Regions from separate parts of the Homo sapiens genome. Here all the other regions are linked to region 1. The links come from fine-mapping of genetic effects on gene expression. Tissue or cell type: whole blood. Region 1 holds a variant in brackets; each other region holds the start of a gene. Each region is shown on its reference strand, or each on the opposite one.

Evidence for each region. PIP is the estimated chance that this variant, and not a neighbour inherited with it, causes the effect. A credible set is the group of variants that fine-mapping cannot tell apart.
Region 2: it holds the start of MS4A4A, and the variant in region 1 is the best candidate, but not a certain one, in a credible set for the expression of MS4A4A in whole blood (TOPMed, PIP 0.81).
Region 3: it holds the start of RET, and the variant in region 1 is the best candidate, but not a certain one, in a credible set for the expression of RET in whole blood (TOPMed, PIP 0.50).

What each region holds. Positions count from the first base shown.
Region 1 is chr9:132,998,741-133,006,917 of GRCh38, forward strand. No RefSeq gene overlaps it. Among named protein-coding and RNA genes, the nearest start is that of SNORD141A, 18 kb to the right of the region's middle. RefSeq lists cis regulatory regions at 66-988, 5,087-6,038, 5,506-5,523 and enhancers at 2,150-2,650, 4,486-5,359, 5,443-5,587, 5,462-5,756, 6,234-7,105. The variant C/T (reference allele first, on the strand shown) is at 5,011.
Region 2 is chr11:60,277,183-60,285,359 of GRCh38, forward strand. MS4A4A (membrane spanning 4-domains A4A) reads left to right here and starts at 3,484. Exons shown (of 7, transcript NM_148975.3): 1 at 3,484-3,534. The coding sequence starts at 3,494. RefSeq lists a silencer at 3,369-3,418.
Region 3 is chr10:43,072,725-43,080,901 of GRCh38, forward strand. It overlaps RET (ret proto-oncogene), which reads left to right and starts at 4,345. Exons shown (of 20, transcript NM_020975.6): 1 at 4,345-4,607. The coding sequence starts at 4,535. RefSeq lists enhancers at 190-947, 656-947, 1,158-1,319, 3,402-3,668, 3,534-4,391 and 1 more and promoters at 3,884-4,567, 4,269-4,567.

The sequences.
Region 1 (8,177 bases):
ATTTTTCTGTATTGGGCGTGCATGATAACATTATCACTGGCATGACAAAAAAGACTCTGTCTGCTGAAATATGATTTCCCGGCCTTGAGGTTTGTGTCTCTGTCCCCTCCCTCAAAGCTGCAGGTCCCTTCAGGCCCCTCTAGTGCAGTGCAGAGCCTTGCAGGCAGGTGACTTTTTACTTTACAAGTGCTGGCTGTCTCGCCCCCACCCTGCTACTCTGTGAGCCACCTCCTGGCAGATGCTGGGTCCTATCCTTTGGGGCCAGGGCCTACTAGGTCCCCAGTAAGTTTAGGATGGGTATGCAACCTCCCGACTCCTTCTTAGCAGCTGGGGCAGGGCCTCCAAGGTAGGTAGAGTGACAGCCTGGTTTGGGAACAGTGGGGTGGACACTGGACCTGTGACTTCTCACAGGGTCCCCAGCTCTTCCTCTGGTCTGGGTCAGGGGCTGTCCGGGACCACCTCCATGGGTGTCTAGCTGGAGTTGGGCCTGGCCCGGAGACAGGCAGGACCCAGGGTTCCCGGGGGATGGGGGCTGCAGGGATGCTGCGGGAGGGAAATCTGAGGCAGGGCATGTTCCGACCCGGCATGCTCAGGTTTGGCCTGATAAGTTTATCGCACGGTGCCGGCTGCCAACCGTCGGTGTGGAGTAGAACCATGGGCCAAGCAGGAGGGCACTCCTGAGCCGATAGCGCCTTCCAAGTGTTATCAGGGGCCTGGTGGCCCAGAGAGCGGGAGAAAGGGACCAGAGGAGGGAGAGAGAGAGAGAGTGAGGGAGAGAGACAGACACAGACAGAGAGAGAGAAAGAGAGAGAGAGAGAGACTTCCACCCACTTCACTCAAAGGACAAGCTGGGGAGGAAGAGGCCTCCGAGGTTCCTCAGGGGTCCTTGACGTCCCAGCCTTGAGCCACTGCAGTGGGGAATCAGCCCCGGGCAGGCACAGGCTGAAGACCCCATCAAACCCAGGCATAGCCTTCCAGATCACCAGACAATGCTGCCACTACTCAGCTCTTCCGCAAGACCTAGGGAAAAAACTCCCTTTCCTGGAAGGTCCTGGGGCTCCAGGATGCACGTGGAAATCCCTGGGAGCAGGAGGGCCAGGCAGCCGGGGGCTGCTTCTTTAATTACTTGAACCCCATTCCATCCCACCCCAACCCTTTTCCTCCCTAACCCCAAGCCCCAAGGCCTCGGGTGAGAGTCAGGCTCAGGTTATCTTTTGTGAGTCCCTCTGGGGTGTCCAGCCTGGCACTTGTCTCCATCCAGGGAGGCACGGCTTTCCAACATTACACCCCTCCTCATGACTGGGGAAACTGAGTCTGAGAGTGAGCAGGAGAGCAGGCAGGGGGGCAAGGACCCAGGAGACCAGGAGGAAGAAGAGCAGGAAGAGAAGGGAAAGCTGGGAGGTTCCACGCCCACCCTGAGGTCTGGAGGTCCGACAAGTGCTTCGTGATCTGCAAGGAAAAGTCGCACATGAGGCAATGCCTCCCAGCCCTAAGTGCAGCCACAGGGCAGCCTGGTCCTCAGCTGTGCACAGCCACCTGGCGGGGGGAGGCAGGCGCCGGCATCCACAGGGTTATCTTTGTGGGGTGGATTTTTAAGTCCTTTTGTTTGTTTGTTTTTGTTTTGTTTTGTTGAGATGGAGTCTCACTCTGTCACCCAGGCTGGAGTGCAATGGCGTGATCTTGGCTCACTGCAGCCTCCACCTCCTGGGTTCAAGCGATTCTCCTGCCTCAGCCTCCCTGGGTAGCTGGGATTACAGGTACCCACTGCCATGCCTGGCTAATTTTTGTACTTTTAGTAGAGATGGGGTTTCACCGTGTTGGTCAGGCTGGTCTCAAACTCCTAACCTCAAGTGATCCACCTGCCTCGGCCTCCCAAAGTGCTGGGATTACAGATATGAGCCACCACGCCCACCTAAGTCCCTTTTATATACATATATACAGTTTTCCGTGGTTTCTATAACAACAATGTTTTGGGGGAGGGCGTGGGGAAAGAAAGGTGATTTGTTCATTTGTTTTAAGAGGCAGAGAAGGAAAAGGCATTGCTACCAAGGCTCTCTGACCTGGTGGGAACGGTCCCAGCCCAGGATCAGTCTGTAGGTGCCCACCTCTGCCAGCCTGGGGTGCAAGCAGAGGGCCATGCCAGTGTCTGCAGAGCCAGCAGTGTGTCCCCTGGAGTCATGTATGAGAGACTGCACCCAGGACCCTCACAGAGGCACAAAGACCACCCTGACAGGTCAGAAATCTTTCATTCATCAACTCCTATATCTATCGAGTGCCTGCCACAGGTGGTGAGGATCGGGCCGAGGGGAAAACAGACGAAATCCCCGCCCTCTTGGAGCTCAGCGGGGATGCAGAGACTAAACAAAGCCAGGAGAAACAGAATGCAGAGAAGCCGGGCGTGGTGGCCCGTGCCTGTAATCCCTGCACTTGGGAGGCAGAAAGGGGTGGATCACCTGAGGTCAGGAGTTCGAGACCAGCCTGACCAACATGGCGAAAACCCATAACTATTAAAAATACAAAAATTAGGCCAGGTGCGGTGGCTCACACTTGTCATCCCAGCACTTTGGGAGGCTGAGGCAGGCGGATCACCTGAGGTCGGGAGTTCGAGACCAGCCTGACCAACATGGAGAAACCCTGTCTCTACTAAAAATACAAAATTAGCCTGGCATGGTGGTGCATGCCTGTAATCCCAGCTACTCGGGAGGCTGAGGCAGGAGAATCACTTGAACCCAGGAGGCAGAGGTTGCGGTGAGCTGAGATCGTGCCATTGCACTCCAGCCTGGGCAACAAGAGTGAAACCCCATCTCAAAAAAAAAAAAAAAAAAAAAAGTTAGCAGGGCGTGGTAGCCGGTGCCTGTAATCCCAGCTACTCTGGGGGCTGAGGCAGGAGAATCACTTGAACCTGTGAGGCAGAGGTTGCAGTGAGCTGAGATCGTGCCACTGCCATCCAGCCTGGGTGACAGAGTGAGACTCTGTCTCAAAAAAAAAAAAAAAAAAAGAAAGGTGTGGGGGTGTTGATGACGTGGAGATCACCAAGTTAGATGGGTGGCCAGAGAGACCTCATTAAGAAGCACTGAGTTTCCCTGCACAAGAGAGGGGGTTGTGGAAGGACAGCCCTGGATGGAGTCAGGAGACCGAGGGATGTCACTCTGCTTGGCTGGGTGGCTTTGGTCAGACACTGCCCTCTGGGCCTCAGTTTCTTTTTCTTTTCTTTTCTTTCTTTCTTTAAAATTTTTTGTTTGTTTGTTTGTTTGTTGAGAGAGGATCTCACTCTGTCACCCAGGCTGGAGTGCAGGGGCATGATCACAGCTCACTGCAGCCTCAACCTCCTGGGCTCAAGTGATCCTCCCACCTCAGCCTCCCGAGTAGCTGAGAGTACAGGCATGTGCCAACATAACCAGCTAATTTTTGTATTAGACAGGGTTTAGCCATGTTGCCAGCCTGGGCTCATACTCCTGGGCTCAAGCAATCTGCCCACCTCAGCCTCTCAAAGTGCTGGGATTACAGGTGTGAGCCACTTCGCTCAGCCAGTTTCTTTTTCTTTTTTTTGTGCAGACAAGGTCTCACTGTGTTGCCCAGACTTGTCTTGAACTCCTGGCTTCAAGCCATCCTGCTGCCTTGGCTTCCAGAATAGCTGGGACCACAGGTACTCACCACCACTCCAGGCTAATTTTGTACTTTTTGTAGTGATGAGGTCTCACTCTGTTGCCTAGTTAGTCCTGGCTTCAAATGATCCTCCTGCCTCAGCCTCCTGTAGACACCTCTTGACTCCCAACCTCTGCTCTTTCTGTCCCCTCTACCCAAGTGGCTCTTTTCCTCCTACCGATTTGCTCAGCTCTCTCCTAACTGTCCTGGGCACAGCTCAAGCCTCACCTCCTCCGGATGCCTTCCCAGGCAGTTCTCTTCCCTCTGACACGTTTGTGGCACGATCACAGCACTTTCCTGTGAACGCTGTGAATGGCTCAGGGTGCGGGGTAGGCACACAATAAATGTAGTTGTTATTTCATTGCCAAAAGCTCTGACCTTGGAGCCCAGGTTCTGGGCTGGACCTGCAGGGCCACAGGTCCTCCCAGTCTGGGGTTGGGGAGCAGGTGGGGAGCAGGTGGGCCCCCCCATGCTGTGATGAGCTGAATCCTGCTGCACTCCTCGGCTGTCCCTGCCGACAGCTGGAGCTACAGACACCAGGCTGAAGCCCAGAGCTATTTCTGCCAAGGGTGACTTGGAACTTCCTCCCGGATCTCTTAAAAATAGAGGGGTTATCGTGGCCGTCAGGCCCCTTCCTCCACATGGGGAACTCGAACATGATTTCTGGGGAAGGCCTAAGCCCCAGGCCTCTCTCAGCCCAGCAAGGACTTATCTCTGAGCTCAGCTGGGCAGCAGGAAGGGAGCGAAGCGACCACCGTGGGCAGCTCTTCCTGCCCCAGGAGCCCCTTTTGGGAGCAGCAAGGGATGTGGCCACTGACTCAGGGGTGTCAATCACCCATCTTCCCCGGAGCTGCGGTTGCCCACCGGACTCTGAGGGGAATCAGAAGTCAGTCGCGTAGAGAGCATCCTGGGGAAGCCTCAGGCACCGTCCGGCCTGGCCTTTCTGCTCCAAGCCCTCCCCCTGCGCCCAGCACGACCCCATCTCTGTACACTACCATGAGATCACTGGTGGACAGCTGTCTCTACTGTGTGGCCAGCCCCAGCAGAGGCTGAGGGTCGGGCACCTGGAGGTCAGGCTGGGGTCTACCACTCCCAGCAGCTGGGTCCTCTCTGCAACAGAGGGCATTCCTGGGGGCCAGCCCAGCTCCTCTGGGGATTTCTTCCCACTTTGTAGACCCCAGACTTAGTGCCAATAGAAGACCACTTCTCGCAGGGTACAAAGTCTGTTCAACAAGTATTTGCTGGGCGTCCACTCTGGGCAGGGCCTTGGCAAGACCCAGGAGAGGAGACGCTGTGGGGGGTCTGGAGGCCCAAGGGGGTTACTAAGCCCAGCCCTGGGGTTAAGGGAAGTCTAATGAGGGAAGT[C/T]GACATTTGCAAGACAAAAAGAATTTGATCTGTTGGAAGTGCAGAGGGCTGCCCCAAGCCAAGAAAACAGCGGGGCACAAAGCCCTGGGGGAGACAAGAGGCCTCCCCTGCCCCCAGCTCTTGCCCAACCTGTTAGGGAGCAGTGCTCTAGCCAGCGCCTTCTCAGGGCTTCAGGAGGCCAGTGTGCAAAGCAAGGGTGACCTAGTGGGGTCCTGGGGGCTATCCTGTTGGGGCTTGGCAGCCAGCCACATGCATCTTTGGTCATTGCCACGGTCACGGTCCCTGCCTTCCCATCCCTGCTGGCTCGTGGGATGTCTACGGGGCTTGCCTGGCACCCCCGGCCCTCCTCTGCACTCCTCAGGAAGGAAGGTTCAGGATCCCTGAGCTCAGCCTCCCCAAGGCAGCTCTTTAGAAGCCTACAATCTTAGCTGGAAACCGTCACGGTTAAGGGTTTCCTCCCGGTGGCTCCCCAGCGCCCCTCAGCCCGGCCTGAGACTTATCACTGCCCCCCAGCTGGTGCCCCCCTCCTCCTCCAACCACCTCACCCTGGGTGATTCAGCAAATCTTCCCTCCATGAGGGGAAAAACAAGAGTGAAAAATCACAATGTCAGATTACAAAGCCCTAACTGTAGGGCAGGCCCCTGGCAGGGAGATAAGGGTCTCATTCCCCACCCTCAAAGCCTCTCTGGCAGATAAACCTCCTAGAGCAGCATGGGCTGCACTGCTGCAGGTGTGGGGTGGGGAGGCCTGGCCTCACGGAAGTCTGGTCAGGGGACACAGGGCCCTGCCAGGAGCTGAGGGCCCACAGCTCGGCCACTGTGCAGAGCTGGCCAAAGAGGAAGTGCCACGGCCAGCATTGATGTTGCCATCCCAACAACTGCCTTGGAGGGAAAAAGAGAAGGGCAGGGCCTTCTGAGAAAGTTCAATGACAGGATGCCCCACAAATGCCCTTCACCCTGGGGTGTCCCTCTGCCAGCTCAGCCTGCAAACCATGATCCCTTGTACGACTGCAGCCCAGCTGTGTTGCAGAAGTAAAGGTGTCTGCCCCCATGAAGCCAGCCCAGAGGAGGGAGGAGCTGGGATGCCATTCCTGGGAGGGGGGCCTCCTCTGGGGAGGCCTGGGTGGACTTGAAGGCAGCTCAGCCTCATCTGCCCTAGAGACCTTGCCAGGAGAAATCCTGGGTCTCCAAGCCAGGAGATCTGCTAGGCTGGGAGACCTGCCCTGGGAGCCACTTGTCAGCAGGGGACCCTGTGATTGTGGGGATGAGGCTGGGGGTAGGAAGGGGCGGTCACTAGGCTTCCTCTGCTGGTGGAGGACAATGAAATGATGGCTTTGAAGCTGAACTCTGTGCTGGGCCCTGGTGCTCTAAGCAAGTCATTTCTCTACTTTTTAGCCCCGTATGCTGTCTGTAAAGTGAGATAAGAAAACCCACCCGCAGGGCTGTCCTGGGGAGTCCAGGTGCATGCCAAGCAGGAGTGGCACAGGTCCTGGTCTCTGTTTCCCAGGGTTGGGGACCAGCATCTGGCTGGAATGGGGGTGGCTTTGGGATAAGTGCCTGCATAGCTCTTGGTATCCAGGGCCAAGGGTCCAGCTGCCCAGCATTCTAAAGACTCTCCATTGTCTGGGGAAGCTCTCTGAGGTCATTTCCCACAACACCATGGGATGGCTGCGGTGGGCTAGGGAAAGGAGGGTGTGCAGCAGGCACATAAACTTTCTAGAGTAGTGTGGGTTGCACCACTGCAGGCATGAGGTGGGGCGCCCCGGTGTCACAAAAGTCCGATCAGGGGACATATGGTCCTGCCAGGAGCTAAGGGCCCAGAGCTTGGCCACCGTGCAGAGAGCTGGGCGAAGAGGAAGCGCCGCAGCCAGTGGACTTGGTTCCACTCAGCTGCAAAAGGAAGAGAGTTGGTCAAGACGACGTCTGCAGTCCCTTCACTATAAAATTTTGCAAAATACAAACTGCTCAGTGGGTGTGTAGTTGGCCGAAGGTACTCCACCAAAGAGGTACCAAAAGCTGGTGGGCTTCAAAGCAGCATCGTCCCCAGCAGCCAAAAAGTGGGCACCCCAAGTGTCCATCCACAGATGATGGGTAAACAAAACGGGGCCTGTCCATGCTAGGAAATATGACTTGGCCATCAAAGGGAATGGAGCTCTGACACATGCCACACGTGGACCTTGAGGACATCATGCTGAGTGAAACAGGCCAGTCACAAAAGCACAAGCACAGGATGATTCCACTTATATGAGGTCCCTAGAGTAGTCAAATTCATCGAAAGTAGAATGGTGGCTGGCAGGATCTGGGGGAGGGGAGTGGGGAGTTAGTGTCTAATGGGTACAGAGCTTCAGTTTGGGAAAAGTTCTGGTGTTGGCTGGTGGTGATGATTGCACAACAATGTGAATGTACCCAATGCCACTGAACTGTACACTTAGAAATAGTTAAGAAGGTAAAATTTATTAAGTATATTTTAGTAACCCCTCCCCCCGCCCCCGCCAAAAAAAAAAAGCCCATGTGCACAGTGGTCTCTGCTGAATGAAGACTTGAAAACCAGAGCCCAGCCCTAAACAGCTCATGCATAGTCCAGGCAGAGAAACAGAGCAGGTAATGCCCCCTCAACTGATGGCAGACGGGCCAGGGAGCCCTGCTCTGGGCTGGAGCAGGGAGGCACCTTCAGGGTTGTGGGAGATCTGCAGGGAGAGCCACTTCTCCCTAGGGGTGGGTGTCTGAGCAACAGCACCAGAATCCCAGCGACATTCTCTCCTTCCTCCTTCCAGACTGGCTTTGCCTGCCTCTGAGGCTCTGGGAATGCTGTTCCCTCCACTTGGAAGGCAGTTTCCTCACTTCACCAATTCTTTATCTTCGTCATCCCAAACCCAACCCACATGCACCCCACAAGAAAACCTCCCCTTGCCAGTTATAGACTCTCAAATCCCCCAGAAATTCTGCCCTCTGATGTTGATCATAATTGTCATGAAATAGCTATTTGTGTCATTGTGTGACACGTTCTATGAAATTCTCCATTGCTTCCCCAGTACTCATTAAGGAAATGCTTTTTGTCAGATGGACAGATGGATGGTTGGGTGAGTGGATGGATGGATGAATGATGGATGGATGGATGGTTGGATGGATGGATGGAAGCATGGATAGATGGATGGATGGGTGGATGGA
Region 2 (8,177 bases), not on the chromosome of region 1:
TTACCACGAGAAAAGTATGGGGGAACACGCCCCCATGATTCAATTATCTCCCAGTGGTTCCCTCCCACAACATGTGGGAATGATGGTAGCTACAATTCAAGATGAAATTTGGTGGGGACACTGCCAAACCATATCAATAGTGAATACTTAAGTAAGTGAATTCCCTGAGAATAGTGAATTAAGATCCCTGAAGGCCTAGAGTATAACCAGTCCTAACTGGAATAGGAGAATATAAGGCGCCAGGAAGGGAGAGTGTATACAGAAAAATACTAATGAAACAGATCAATTACCTGTGGGTCTATAGACACTGAGATTTACATTTATGGTGGAGTATTTAAAACAACTTATTTTCAGGTATGTAGAAAACAGCATATGAAACATGAGGCAGTTACTAACTTCAGAGAGAAAAATGGTCAAAAGGAAGCGTAATCATAACACTCATAATGAATTAGCCATTAATGATTTAAATACTATAAATTGAGTTAACTAAAAAATCGTGATAAAACTATATGGGAGAATGAGGGAAAAGGAAGTGTTATGGTGGGAAGGTGTGTCCAGGGTAAAAATGAAGGATATAGGGGTTAGTCTATTGTCTTCAGTAGTAGGAGGTTAGTGCATAATATATAAAACCAAAAATTAGAACAGTATTTAAAATCATTCACTTAGAAATATGGAGTCAACACAAAAAGAAACAATTAAAATTTAAATACTTGCTTCTGGAGAAAGAAAATTGATTGGGAACTGGGGAAGGGGGCACTAATGATTTCTTTCAGGCTAAATCCAGTGAACATTTTACTGTTGTTAGCTTGTCTCTCTGAAGTATTTAATAATAATTGAATGATTTCTTCCTACTGAAATATTTCTGTGCTCAAAAAATGATAAGTAATTTATTTATATTACCTAATATAACCCTTTCAACAACGCTATGACATATTACTATCTATATTTTACAGATGAGTAAACTGAGGTGCAGAAAGCCTAAGCAACTTGCTCCAGCTCACATAGGGCATAGGATTCAAAATCCAGCTCAAGGCCGGGTGCAGTGGCTCACGCCTGTAATCCCAGCACTTTGGGAGGCTGAGGAGGGTATATTACTTGAGATCTGGAGTTCGAGAACAGCCTGGCCAAAATGGTGAAACCCAGTCTCTGTTAATATATAATATAACATATTATATAGAGATACATTCTATTATATATATAATATATTCTATTATAATATAATATATATTCTATTATATAATATATATTATATATTATATCTATTATATATAATATATCTGTATATGATATATAATTATATATAATATATAGATATTCTATTATATATAATAGGATATATATTCTATATATATAGAATATATATATTTCTCTGTCAAATTTCATGTTATTGTTCTCTTGAAATTGTTATCTGCTAATAATAACCTGATACTGTCTCATTTCATACCATATGGAGTGGGAGGAGAGACTGATGCCTGTCCTTAGTCCAGAATTTCAACCTCTCTTAGGAAGTCATGAAACTCTGTACCCTTGTCTTCTGCAATGCCACATTTTCCGAGTTTGCCTGCTATCTTCCTTACCCTCTTTTTCATAATCCTCTGGGAAATCTTATTTCTGATTATACTGTCTCTATCCTCTAGAAAAAGGGTTTGACGTTTTCTGCCTCCACCCACAAGCCTGGGTGACCTCATCCCTCTGGGCGAAGAGCTGTTGGGTTTACCTCTATAGCCATGTTCTCATTCCCTAGCTCCTGCCAGTTATCCACTTCTTGTCAACTTTATTTGAAGGTCCCTACACAACTCTGATCAAATACGTTCAAAATTTTACTATTTGTTCCTGCAGTTCTGTCCTGGTCCATGTCTATTGCCTTACTGAATGGCTCTATCACTCATTCAGTTTCCTAACCCAGAATCTGAGTGTCATCCTTTCCTGTTTTTTCTCCTGATTTACACATCCATTATACCAACAAGTACTGTCATTTCTTGTTCCTAAGCATCTTTCAAATCCATTCATTCTCTCCAACTTCACTAGCATCACAGGTAGTTCAGTAACCATCATCCCTTCCCTAGAGAACTGCCTCTACCTTGAGCCTAATTCTCTGATTTTATTATTATTTATTCCTGTTGTCTGAAACCAGGACAATATTTCTGAAATATAATCTATTTTAATTTTGAGAATCGTAATTTCAGATTATAGACCACATAGTTTTTGGAATTAAGTAAAACTGGATTTCAATCTCATCTATACCAGCTATACGAATATCTCTGAGTTTCAGTTTCTTCTTCTGAAAAATAGAAATAATAATATTACCTTCCTTCATTCCCTTTCCATTTGTGTGTCTTTTGCTCATTCATCAGGTCTCCAATTAGATGTCCCCTTATCTAGGAAGTCTCCTCTGCCTACCCAATGTTGGGTTCATTGATCCTCCTATGAGCTCTCTTAGGATATCCTACTTTACCTTGCAGATCACTGATTACAATGGGTTGTAATGATGTATTTACTCATCTGTATTGCCACTTTACCTTGCAGATAACTGATAGTAATGGATTGTAGTGATTTATTTACTGGTCTGTTTTTCCAAGTAGTCTATAAACTCTTTGAGTGAAAATTATTTTTTACCATTTTTTCAGAAGCACACGGCACACTGCTTGGCTTATAGTAGTTTTTCTAAAGAAAATGCTGAATGAATGAAAACTGCACACCACTTTGCTTTCCTCCTCCATGTAAAGTAGGCATTATTTTATTTTACAAATGAATCTTAGGTTCAGGAGATTAACAGGGCCATGCAAGAAATGTTTGCCATTGGTTTGATCTTAGTCAAAGACCAGCTCGTTCTATGATACCAGCTGCTTCCTTCACTTAGAAAGGTGTTGTTTTATTGCCATACAACCAACTTGTTGCCATTTTATGGCCACTCCTGATGAATCTCTAAAGGTGGAATTTCATGTAAATAAAACATTTAAGTTGTGTATATTAAGGTTGGTGCAAAAGTTAATTGTGATTTTGGCCATAAAATAATGGCAAAAACTGCAATTACTTTTGCACCAACCTAATAAAATAGTAATAGTAGTGCTCCAGGAAGACAAGAGTACTGTGGAAATGTGTGACCCTGTGAAAGGGGGTATTTACAAAATACCATTTACTTGTTTATATAACGACTTTTGAAGAGAGTCTGGCATACAGTAAATCCTCTACCACTGATATCCACAGTAATTAGCAGTATTATTTTCATAGGAAAGACTGTATCAGGCAGCCCCTGCTTTTTCAGCAAATTTCAAAATAGACATCCACACCCATATTGGGAACACAAAATCAGTTAATGCTTCCGATATAAAAGAGGAACTAGCTGTGCGTCTCAGAAATTCTCAGCACAGCCTTTAAGGTTCCAAACATCTGCTAGAAGAGGAATGCAGATTTAAACTGAGTGAGGTGTGGAGTGGGGGAAGTTGATTGGGTCTAGACCAAAGAACTTTGAGGAACTTGCCCAGAGCCCTGCATGCATCAGACCTACAGCAGACATTGCAGGCCTGAAGAAAGGTAGGTCCAGGGACTTGCCTTCCTAGGCTTTCGGGCTGATGGCTTGTTTCACTTCCTGGGTTAAGAATTTCTGGGAGGGGAATGAGAAGAATAATGAGGCCACTTCCCATGACCCAAGCTGGTATTCAGGGTTGGGGTGGGTTGAGTGCACCTTTAAATGTGCATTCGGTGGGGGGATGAGGAACAGTTTTTGCTACAGTCGATAGGAGTTAGAAAAGCCTCCTAAAGGCTGACATTGGAGGCTGGATAAGGTTGTTTAGTTACTTTTGTCCCCTGAGTCTTCAGGATATCAAAACACTGAAAGCAACATTTTAAACCTTTGACTAGTTACCTCATCTACTGTTAATGCCCTTCTTCTGTGGTCTTTATTCTCTGTGTCTGACTGGTTATTTTTATAACTCAGGATTTAAGAACAGATGTATCACATGCAGAATTTGGTGTACATGGAGTAGGGCACAGGCAGGGTCCCCAGCCTTGTACATTTAGATGGGCTGTGGCCTGACCTAGTTCTCCAGTGGTCTTTGGCACTATTCATGGGGCACCCAGGCAGTAAACTGAGGCTGCTCATGATAAAATCTGCTAATGAAAAACACCTTGTAGACTTTTAGCATTCTTAGGATAAGAAAGAAGCTTGTAAGTGGTCGTGGCCATTGTAATCTTTCCCCAGATGAAGTAAAAGAAGCCAATAAAAGGGAAATAATGTACCCAGAATCACACAAGTTAACAAAAGGGCTGGGAGAAAAACAAAAACAAAAACAAAAACAGAATTCTTGGTTCCTAGCCCGGGCCTTTCCCCCTTTTCCCTTCCCATGCCACCACTTCTGCATCCCCATCATCCTTCTAAAACCATCCAGATTCAGGCCTCATTTTGGGTTTCTAGTCTATTTGACAACTTTGCCAAGAAAAACGGATGGCTGTTTGTACCACTCTCCTCATGCTCTCTCCTTGCAATTGTGACCCATGAGGAGGATGGTGACATAAAAATGAGGAAATAAGAGACTGGTGGTGCTGCTGATCCACAAGGTGACTGGGGCCAATAGAAGAGGGAAGGGTGGTCTGGGTTTCCCCACCTCTTTATCAGGGGTGTGGGGGAAAGACATTGTATTTCTTAAGAGCCTGATGCATATAGGTGATGTGGCAAAACCAAGGTTTAAATTCTTCTCCAACCTGGAAGAAATGTCCCTCATATGCATCCAATATTCTCAGCAGTTAAAAAAAAAATTGAATATAGAGAAGTCAAGCCCTGGATGGTAAACACGTTTTTGTTCTTGGGGACTTCATGTGCCGTAGATAATTAACACAAGGATTTCTGTGGTGGAAAAAGAGGAGGCAGTTATATGAATTTATGGCCAGAGTTTCTTAGAATGACAAAGCACCAGCCTTGAATGACCAGAACCTGACCTATGTTACCAAAGAATTATGGGAAAGCATAGGAGTCAGTTACAAGCTTTATTTTGATATAATTGCTCTGCCCTCGAGGAAGCTTACAGTCTTACCAGAGAGGCACTAAACACAGAGAGAGAACCACCAGTGCGTTTGATAAGACAGACCCAACATGTCCTAAATTCTCAGTCTGAAGGTGTGCCTGAGAGATTGAGGCAGAGGTTCTTTTACATTAAAGAAGAATAAAGTACACATTTAGATGGACTAAGAAGAATCATCTTTAGTCACTTTCCAAATAACTTTGACTTTTGCAATGTAGAAGGAACATAACACATTTCTTAAACCCTTATTTACCGTCATAGGCTGACTAATCCACATGTGGGCAATGGTGGGGAAGTGGGGGAATAGTGTCTGAGAGAAGATAGAGACTATAAAATGCTGTTCATGTGTGAGAAGATTAGATGATGTGGTGGGTTTGTTTTTGTTCTTACAAGGTGGTCACAAGAGGGGTGGAACATTCCTGCAAATGGTTTCAATATATGCAGATGTCTCAATATAGGAATGAAATTACGTCTTTGGAACAACTTAAATAAGTCAAATATACTTGGAGCTTTAAAAATTAAAAGGAGAGAGATTCGAGGTAAGACTACAATAGATTTGTGCTGAAGTAGCCGAGCTTTTGTTATCAACATTAAAAATTTTAACTTTATGCTAAGGGTGGTGAAATATAAAAGAAGGCTTTTAAAGGGGATGGTGACTCAATTGTTTTTGTATTTGATCATTCTGGCTACAACATCAGTGGTGGATTGAATATCCAAAGCCACAAATGGACACAGGGAACATTCAGAGGCTATAATGAATACTTCTGATAAAAATAGAATAATGGCTTGCCTTGAGAAGATGGGAGAAATACACAGAGTTGAAAAATGGTTGTGTAGGATTAGAATGAGATTGATTGAGCATAGAGGGTAGGCAATGGAAGGAACCAATGACAAACTATCAGATATTTTTGAGACAGGGTCTCACTGTGTTGCCCAGGCTGGAGTACCCTGATGCCATTGTGGCTTACTGCAGCCTGGGCCTCAGCCTCCTGAGTAGCTGGGATTACAGGCGCCCACCACCACACCCAGCTAATTTTTGCATTTTGTGTAGAGATGGGGTTTCACCATGTTCCCCAGTCTGATCTCAAACTCCTGGGCTCCAGCGGTCCTCCCACCTTGGCCTCCTATACTGCTGGGATTACAGGATTGAGTCAAAATGCCCAGCTTTAAACTTCCAGATTTTTAACATGGATAGTGTAGTTAATTGCTGGACCTTCCACCAAGAAAGGACACTTGTAATTTCATAGCCCTCTTAGGGTTCCTGTTCCCTTTAGCTCTTGCCACTCTTGATTAGCAACTACTTACAGGGCTCTGAAATAATCTCCACATAGGAAGATTTGCGCCACCTTACTTTTTTGAAAGGGAAATTTTGAGGAAGACTGGATGTCTTCTATTTAGGTCTTCTAAGGTTTGAAATAAAAATAACCTCTTCTCCCTTCTGGGACAAGTAGGTAAATTGTCAATTTATGGGCTTTATTAGAATGACTTTAAATTAAGCCCAGAGAAGGACAATTCCCTTAAGTGTAACAAAATTTGAGGATGTGGATTAAATGTAAGACCAAAAATAAGACCTATTTTATTTTAGCCATATGCTCCAAATCTAAATTTTGTGTTCTGTCTAGGAAGTGCTAAAGTGTATATATAGGTCTGAATATACCTACTCCATCGCATATAAATGCAAACCACCTCACAAATTCCATTATCATTGGAACAGAGACTGCAAGAGGAAGACAAGGGCCTCTTGGCCCACCTCTACGTAGTCTTGTTATCTAACTTATTCCAAATTGGGTGGTTTCTACCTTTTAGCTATTATAGATAATGCTGCTAAGAAAATTAATTGTACAAGTTTTTGTGCAAACAAGAGATCTTCCATTCACCAGACTAGTTTAGTGGATCCCCTTAAGCAAAGGAGTTCTGGAATTACATCACCTGGATTTAAATTTTGGCCCTGCCACTGTTTACTCAAGTTACTTAATCTTGTGTTTCTATAATTCTGTCCTGTGAATAATAGAATATATCTCTCAGGGGAATTTAATGATGAAATAACACATATAAAACATTTAAACCAGTGCGTGTCACTTAATAAATGCTAAATACATATTGACTATTATTACTGGTATTCCTACTATCACTTACTCATTTCTGGCTTGAAGTATAAAACATAAACTTCCTTTAACACTTCCTGCCACTCAAGGACATGCTAGACAGGGACTTTACTCCTGTCATGACCCTGCTCCAACCTTCTCCGGTCTTGGGGAAAATAGAAAAGCAGATAAGAGGGGTCTATATAATTGGTGAGAGCATGTTTTTCATGGTACCATGTGGTCAGAGGTTGACTCTTCCTCTCTTTTGCAGTTTGTCTCAAAGATTGGTCAGAAGAGTCAGGATTGTCCTCCTTTTTTGCTCTCAGTAAGTTAGATACAAGACTATGCAGAGGCGGGCCTAGAGGCTCTCCTCTTCCTCTTGCAGTCTCTGTTCTAATGATAATGGAGTTTATGAGGTGGGTTACATTCACATGCTATGGAGTAGGTACATTCAGACCTATATCGACACTTTAGCATCCTCTGAGCAGAACACAAAATTTAGATATGGATCAAAGGGGTAAAATAAAATAGCAGGCCTTATTTTTTGTCTTAAATTTAATTTGTACTCGCAAATTTTGTTAAACATCAGAGAACTGTCCCCCTCTGGGCTTAATTTAAAGTCATTCTAATAAAGCCCATAAATTAACAATTTACCAACTGCCCCAGAAGGGAGAAGAGGTAATTTTTATTTCAAACATTAGAAGACCTAAATAGAAGATATTCGGCCTTCCTCAAAATTTCTCTTTCAAAAAAGTAAGGTGTTACAGGAAAAGTATGTGGAAATTATTTCAGAACCCTACAAGCAGCCTCTAATCAAGAGTGGCAAGAACTCAACGTAACAGAAACCCTAAGAGGGCTATGGGACTGCAAGTGTCCTTTCTTGGTGGAAGGCCCAGCAATTAACTACATTGTCTGTGTTAAAAATCTGTAAGTTTAAGTTTGGGCATGGTGGCTCACTCTTGTAATCCCAGCACTACTGGATGCTGAGACGGGAAGATCACTTGAGCCCTGGAGTTTGAGACCAGCTTGGGTAACATAGAGAAACCCCATCTCTACAAAAAATACAAAAATTAGC
Region 3 (8,177 bases), not on the chromosome of region 1:
CCACACCTAGACAGCCCCCTGTAGGAGAGAAAACCCTGGCAGAGGGGCAGGAAACACTGCCACTGTCTGCTGAGCCCACTGATGCATCATTGGGCTTTACCCTCAAGGCAGTGCCCATGTTATTGCTCTCATGTCACAGAGGATGACACCGAGGCCCAGAGAGGACCACAGAAGCTGCTGAGTGGTGTGGCTAGCCTGGCTCTGGTGCTGAGCGAAAAGGATGGAGATTCCTCCAAGGGAAGGGGAGGAGAAGACGGGCAGAGGGGAAAGAAGAAAGGAGGGCGAGGGAAGGAAATTCACAAGAGAACAAAGTGTGGGGACATGGAAAACTGAAGTGGGCAAAGTGATAATGATAGGTTAGTGGGAGTAGGTGGGCAGGCTGGTGGGAGGAGGTGGGCTTTCTCTGAACCCCCCAGGGTCTCTGATGGATATGTAGGCCCCTGTTGCTTTTGTTCGGGCACCCGGCTCCTAATCAGGCCCCAGGGAGGATGCAAAAGGGGTCTTCTCCCAGGCCAGGTTGAGGGCTCTTCTGCAAACACCCCTGAGGGCACCTGAGGCCCACAGGCAGGCAGGACCTGCACAGTTAGGTAAAGCCTGTCCTGCACAGCCACACCCTGCAGGCCCAGGCCAGGTGTTCTGTGAGCATGCTCATGGAAGCAGCATATTTGGCATAGGGTGGGCTGGCTGAGCAGCCCCTCTGAGTGCCCTGAGAGCTAGCTGGTGGTCACTGGCTTCCTCCTCGCAGCTGCCCTGGAGGGCACCAACAGCAAGGCCAGGGAGGCAAACCGTGGGGAGCAGTAGACCTGCCCCTCACCTCAATAGCCCGATGGGGGAGCAGAGGGCAGTGGCAGACAGATGGGAAACTGAGGCACCGACCACTTTGCTAACAGTGCACACAGCCAGCCTCAGAGTCTGTGCTTCCAACCACCATGTCACACTGCCCATGGGAGGGACCTGGACCCCTGCCCACGCCCACTCTGAGAGGCCTCGGTCAGCAGTTCCAGGAATGCCACCCAGCCTTCCAGTATCACCAGGACCGAGCTGCGCTCTTGAATGTGTTTCCCCCTACCTGCAAGTCACGAGGCACCCCCAGAGCCAGAGTTTCCTGTCACTGCACTCAGCCTCACTCCAACCATGCTTCTCAGTGCAGGCAGAGACCCCCATGTCACCTGGGTCAGAGGACACAGAGCATCCCGCCCGCCTCCCGCCAGGCAAACCTGCACAGGCATGGCCCAGATCTCTGTCCATGATGGGTTTCCCTCCTCCCTCCCTTCCCTGTGCTGCGTTTTGGTGCTTTGGGGTCAGACCTGAGGTGCTCCAGGTAATCTTCACCTGCTCAGAAGCAATGAATGACCTCCAAGTTCTCACATGCTACAGGAAGATGGTGTGAGCCGCCTGCCCACTGAGCATCTTACCCTGCACTGGGGCAGAGCCTTGAAAATACCATCTCCTCACAGTCACCAGGGAAGGACACTGTTTCAGTCCCCATTTGAGAGATGACAAAACTGAAGCTGAGGAGTAATGTATGCAATGTCACACAACTATGAATGGCAAAATTCAAACTCAGGTCTAATCACTCCAAGCAGATGCCTGCACCAGAACCTCTTGGGGAATTTTTTTTTTTTTCTTAGAGATAGCGTCTCACTGTGCTGCCCAGGCTGGTCTCGAACTCCTGGCCTCAAGTGATCTTCTTGCCTTGGCCTCCCAAAGTACTGGGATTACAGGTGTGAGCCCTTAGCCTGGCCCCTGAACTTTTTTTTTAACATGGATTTTTAGGGAGTGGGGGACCCAGGATGTGTGTCTTCATAAAAGCTGCCCTGAAGATTCTCCAAGGGGACCTGCGGGCAGGGACAGGAAGCACTGACCACACTGTGATGTGCCCTCCTCCAGCTCCCAGAGAGCCCGCGACCCTCAGCAGGGCAGTGTGGCCAGGGTGCCCGAGCCCAGGCCCAGGAAGGCCCAATGGCTACAACTTATTAAGGGCTTCCTGTTTGTCGGGCACTGGGCTCTACCCTCACATGCACCCCTCTTTCTAGTTTCACCCCTTCTTCTGAAAGGGAGATGTTTATAGCTGGGGAAACTGAGGCTCAGAGAGATGACTAAGGGGAGTCAAGAAAGAGAGGCAGAGCCCCCTGCAGGCCCTCCCCACCCCATGGACTGAGAGAAGCCAGGGCCAGGACTCCTGGGCAGCCAAAGACCGGCACGTCTGCTTTGCACTTCACCTGGCCCCCACCTCCCCTTGTGAGACCTCAGGGGGTGGCCTCGCTTCCCCTCTGCTGGGCAAGGAGCTCCTTCCTGCTGCCTGATGTTCTGGATACTGAGCCTACACCCAGGCAGGGCTGAATCTCCTTTCCCCGCAGTCCCTGAGGCCAGCAGGCTCTGGGCCTCACAACTGTCCTCTGCTGAGCGACCCTTTGGTCAGATCCCTGGGCGTGCACGTAGCAGGGAGGTATGCATCTGTGTGCGTGTGTGTCCACGTATGGGAACACAGGTGTATGCATGTATGCATGTGTACAGGGTACACCCATGTGAGGGCCCCCCAGACCTTTTTCCAAGGAGTAAATGACACCCTCTCATAGTGTCAGGTGTTCACTCAGGACCCCCAAGGGTGAGGGTGGAGCGAGAGCGTGGAAAGGCCTAAGGTAGGCTAGGCAGGAGCACAGCCCCAGATGGCCCCTTAAGATGGCCACACAGAGCCCAGCCAGACATCAATGTCAGCCAAGGGCTGGCCAGGGTGGTCCCCGGGAGGTGCAGGGGTGGGGCTATTTAAGCCTACCCACTTCTCTCTTCATTCACCTAGGAGGCAATCACAGGAGCTTGTCTGTAGCCAAAAGATGCCCCCAGCCCCTCCCTACCTATCAGGTCCCTTCCCTGGGCACAGGCCTGAGTGTGTAGCCTAGGTAGCCACTGGCACCAGAGATGGAACCTGTCTGAACCCAAGGGAGCCCCTTGTGGCCAACTCTAGCTCCATAAACTGGAAGGGTGTGGCAGGCAGCCGGAGTCCAGTGGCCCACAGTGTCTCTCCTGGGCTGGCAGGCCTGTGCCCCGGCCACCTGCCCCTCAGCAAGCCAGGTCTGGACATCACGGTTGGCTGAGTGCAAGCCAGCCTCTGTCTTGGCAGCTCCCCCTCCTGCCTGTGAGGGTGACTTCACTTTGACTTCATATCTGCAGTGATGTGCAGATCACTTATTCAGCCCTGAGCTCAGCCAGGCAAGAGGGCGGGGTTCTGCACACAGCAAGCAAGGGAGCGGCTGGCTCAAGGGTGCCCTGGGCCCAGGTTCCCTGGCTTTTCCTCCTCAAGGGCCCATGGGCTTCCCTTCTTCCATCCCTCTGCGCCTAAGTGCAGGCCAGACCTCAAAAAGCAGCCGGGGATGGGGCGAGAACAGAGGACTTCCCCACTGAGCCCACATCCAACCTCACCCAGAACCCCTTCTCAGGTCCAGTTGCTGCTCCCTATTAGGGGTAAATGTGTTTATGCGCATCATTTCCATCATTTCTTTGGGGGAAAATTGGATTCTTTCCTCCTCCTCGCTACTCGCTCTCCGACTCTGCCAGCCCATCTCCTGAGAGTTCTCCTGTGTAAGGGATGCAAGGGCCACCAGCACCAGGTCTCTGAAAGGACGCCGGAGCCAGTTTCCGGTTTCCAAGGGTTGGACCAGTGCTGGAGGGGGGAATCACAAACTGCCCTTCCAGGACCCTACCCTCTCTACTACCCCAGGATGCTGAAAAAGGCTATTCTGCCTCTCTTCCCCTGCTCAGCTCTTCCCCGCCTCCTGCCTCCGGCCCCAGCAGAGGCCGCGCTCCCACTGCGCCTCTCGCCTCTGAGAAATGGCGCAGCAAGCGCTCCGCGGAGAGCCTGGAGGCGGGGCGCCCTTCTCTGAGTCCGCGGGGTCGCACCCCGAGCCAGTCGGCCAGACCTGCATCCCGCGTAGCATCCCTGCCCTCTCTGTGCAGCGGAAAGGGCAAAAGGCAGGGACTGCAAGCGGGCGCGCACCGGGTAGGAAGAGCGGCTCTGCGTAGGTGCGCGGACCCGGGCTCCTGGGTTCCATCCCCGCCGCGCACCTCGGGGTCCGCACCCGGCTCCTGCCGGGCCCTTTTCGGCCGCACCCCGCTCCCGCACCCCGCTCCTCCCCAAGCCCCACCCGGCCCAAGCCGCGCGTCCCGCACTGAGCTCCTACACGCGCCGCGCCCCGGCCGCACCCCGCGCAGCCAGAGCAAGCACTGGAGCCCCGCCCCTTCCCGCACCCCACCCGCCTCCGGCCCCGCCTGGCCCACCCCTGGACCGCCCCCGCCCCGCCCCGCCCCTACCCGCTCCTCCGGCGCAGCCGGCGCTTACCTCGCTTCAGTCCCGCGACCGAAGCAGGGCGCGCAGCAGCGCTGAGTGCCCCGGAACGTGCGTCGCGCCCCCAGTGTCCGTCGCGTCCGCCGCGCCCCGGGCGGGGATGGGGCGGCCAGACTGAGCGCCGCACCCGCCATCCAGACCCGCCGGCCCTAGCCGCAGTCCCTCCAGCCGTGGCCCCAGCGCGCACGGGCGATGGCGAAGGCGACGTCCGGTGCCGCGGGGCTGCGTCTGCTGTTGCTGCTGCTGCTGCCGCTGCTAGGCAAAGGTGAGTTCTGCCGGCCGCCGGCTCCCGCAGGGGCCAGGGCGAAGTTGGCGCCGAGCAGCGGAGCGGGCGCGTTCAGAAGCGCCTTTCTGTTTGCCGTGGGCAGCGGGCTGTGCGGTCGCCGGCCACCCGGCCTCGGCTGGGAGCGCAGTGGCTGCGGCGGGCGGCGGGCGAAGGGCAGGACGCCTCGGGCCGGGCGCCTCGGGCCGGGGCTGGGCGGGTCTCGGGCGGGAGCGGAGCGCGGGCCGGGCCGCGGGGGTCGGTGCTCAGAACCCTAGCCATAGCCGCAGGTCTCAATCTGGCCGCGCCCTGCGCCAAAGCCGCGTCCTGGAGCAAACGGGACAGCCGTTTCGGGGCCGACCTGGCGGACGGGTCAGGGAGCCCCGAAAGCCCGCGATTCGTGCGGAGAGTTCTGTTTCGGCAGGAGACGGCTCCGTCCTGGTTTCCTTTTCCCGCTCAGCGTCCGTGCGTTCCTCCCCCAGCTCTGCCGTCCTGGCCAGCCGAGGGATTCGGAGGCTCTTTTGAAAAGATTGCTTTTCCCTCGTGCGTTTTTGCCGCCCTGTCTTTAAACACCTAAAAACCGTGGTTTCTGGGGTGGCTCCCCCCGAGGGGCCGCCGTGATAGGCGTCCCACCCGGCAGCCCTGGAGTCGTGTGGCGCTGCCTGGCAGAGATGCTGAAGATGCGGCCATAGGAGGCCCAGGGCTTGGGGTGGGGCAGGGGTTTGCGCCGCCAGCCAGCGTTGGTGCTGGGCCTGGTGAAACCTCAGGTGCCTTAGGATCCCAGCATTAGGTGTGGCCTTGCAAAGATGGTCATCGACCCCACCCAAACTCTGGCAGAGTGAGCCGCAAGGCTGTGGAATCTTTGACCCCTTGGCACGCGTTTAAGTGTCCCTCAAACTGGCCCTGACTTGATCCCCTCCAAGCGCTTGTGTATGAACCAAGTTTCCCTCTAAGAGGGAAGGAGCCCTGGCCATCCTCCCTCACTCCTTACAAAGGGCTTTCTCTCCCCACAGCCTTTGGGAACAGAAGAAGCCATGGTCAGTCACCCTGTCTCTGGCCCCAGGCCCTGCACAAACTGAGTTTCCAGGCCTGCCTGAGACTTCATTTGTGTGACCTGCGCCTCAGCTCAGCATATGCTGAGGCCAGAGCGGGTCCCCAGTCCACCTAGCGAGGGACAGGGGAGAAGCCCTTGCCTTTCTATCTTTTCTGAGTGTTAGGACTTTGGGGTCCCAGTGCTGCAGGGGGAAGACACGGGGCAGAAGCAAACAAGGCGCTCTGACGCTGTCTTGGGATTCTGGGCTGTGGCTTTGGCTTTGAGGTTGTGGGCAGGGGGCCAGGTGTGAACTGCTGCTGGTGTGCTGGGCAGAGGACTTCCCCACACCCTTCCACAGCCTTGCGTTCAGTTGGGGTGGCCAGTGAGGCTGTGGGGGCCAGGCTCTGGGGGCCGGCTTGTGGCACTCAGCAGGCATGCAGGTAGCTTTCCGTGCCCAGACCCCTGGCCCACAGACAGCTTCCCGAATCCAGAGATGGTGAGCCCCTAGCCCCTGGGATAACCCGGACACCACAGTTGGAGGCACTGGGAGTGAAGAGGCAGCCCCACTCCCTGGAGTAGACAGCTGGGGCCTTTGAAGAGGCTGCAGAGCTCTTTCCCAGGAGCCACAGCTCCGGAGGTTCGAGCCGCACTCTTGGAGCTGCCAAGGACCGCCCCAGTGAGCCCCTCGGTGCTCCCCAACCACCCCAAGGGGACAGCTCGGCCTCAAGCGCCCTCTTGCGGACGCTGCACTTTAGTGGCTGGGCCTGATGACAGGCACAGACTGGGTCTCTAGAGGATGAGGGTTCTTCCACAGCTCACACATGCACACTCACACTGGATCACCAAGACACACTCCTGCCCCTTCTCACAGCACTTGCTGCCAAGGCTGTGGACATGCACAGCGTGGTTCCTTCACACCCTGCCTCACCCACGTCCACACAGGGACCCCAGCCCCTCTCATCACTCATACACACAGGGACGCCACGTGTGTATATAGGGACACACACTCCTCATACCTGCAGGGCATAGCCTGTCAGCCCCAGGTATGCTGGAACCAGAGTGAGAGAACCTCCATCTAAAAGTTACATTCATTTAAAAGTTGCTCTTAAAGGTTTCTGGCATTTCATTGCTCAACACAGATACAGCTGTCCCCGTTGCTTGGATGAGGAAACTGAGTCTCAGCTTCTGGGGTTCCCCCCAGGTCCCAGGCTGACCCTGCACCTCAACCTCCCACAGCTCCTCAGCAAGCCTCTTGTCTCTTGTCTTCCTGGCCTGACTTCTTGGGTCCTGTTTTGCAGCAAGGAAGGACATTCCCTCTCTGCCCCTGGGCCCCGGGGCCTTCTGTTCCCAGCATGGAAGAGCTGGGCACTGTGACTTGGCAGGGCCCGGATCCAAGCTGCCAGACCACCCTCTGCAGAGGGCCTAGGCAGCCCACCCCTGCCTGAAGCACCAGGTATCAGCGCGGGCAGCTCAGGCCAGGGGTACAGCTCCCCCTGCTTCATCCTTTTCCTTCTCCCCTTTCTCTGGCCAGAGGCTTCACCAGGTTCACCTGGGCCTGGCTTGCTTCCTCCTCCACTCCAGCTCACTAACCCTGTCTGGCCTCCAGAAGCTGCCTGCAGCCCTCACTGGTGGGCTGTGCCTGCTGGGGGCCTGCAAGCAGAGAGCAAATGGGGAAGTGCATTGAGCTGATTCACTAAATTGCCTTTCTTCTGCAGAATCACTTTAGGGACAGGCTGAGGAAATCACTGTTTCCTTGGTGGTGTGAAGAAAATGGGATGCGATCACCTAGCGGGGAGCTAATAGCCTTTTAGCCAGTGGAGGAGAAAACCAATTAAAAATTATGATATCTGTTAAAATGGAACCTGGGGTGCCAAGGGGAAGGGAAGGCCCGGAAGCTGCCATCTCCCCTGAGACCTTCCCCCTCTGCAGCCTGGCCGAAGACCCTCTAGGTCCCCTCGTCTTAACTGGATAAGGCTAATACCAGCAGTAGCACCCCATGGGGGCTCACAGTGCACTGCCCCTGTGCTGTGCCTACTCACTTCATCTTTTCCAACAAGTCTGCAAGGGTCATGGTCTTGGCCCATTTCACAGGTGAGGAAACAGGTTCTCATAGCCTATGGACTCGAACCGGTAGAGAGGATGCGGGAGCTCCCCAGCCCTGGCCCTCTGGCTTGCTCCAGCCCGTTCTCTGGGCCAGTGGTGTGGGTCCAGGGTGGGGCTAAGGAGGGCTTCCAGGGAGGTTGCCCTGAGCCTGCCCACCCACTGGTGAGTCCCCCCACCTCGGGCTCCAGGTGCCCTCAGGACATCCCAGCCCAGATCCCAGAGTAATGTGTGGCACCATGCACAGACGCTGAGATACTCTCTGGGTCTCGTCAGCTTTAGTTGATGTCTGGGAGTCCTATGGGTCTGGGGAGGAGCACCAGGCATGGCTGTGCCAGCAGAAGGGCCGACTGTGTGTGCTCTGTGGATGGCAGGAAGGCATCTTGCTGCCAGTGGCGGTGCAGATGTTCGGCTGGGACACCAGGCTGTGGCCCTTGCAG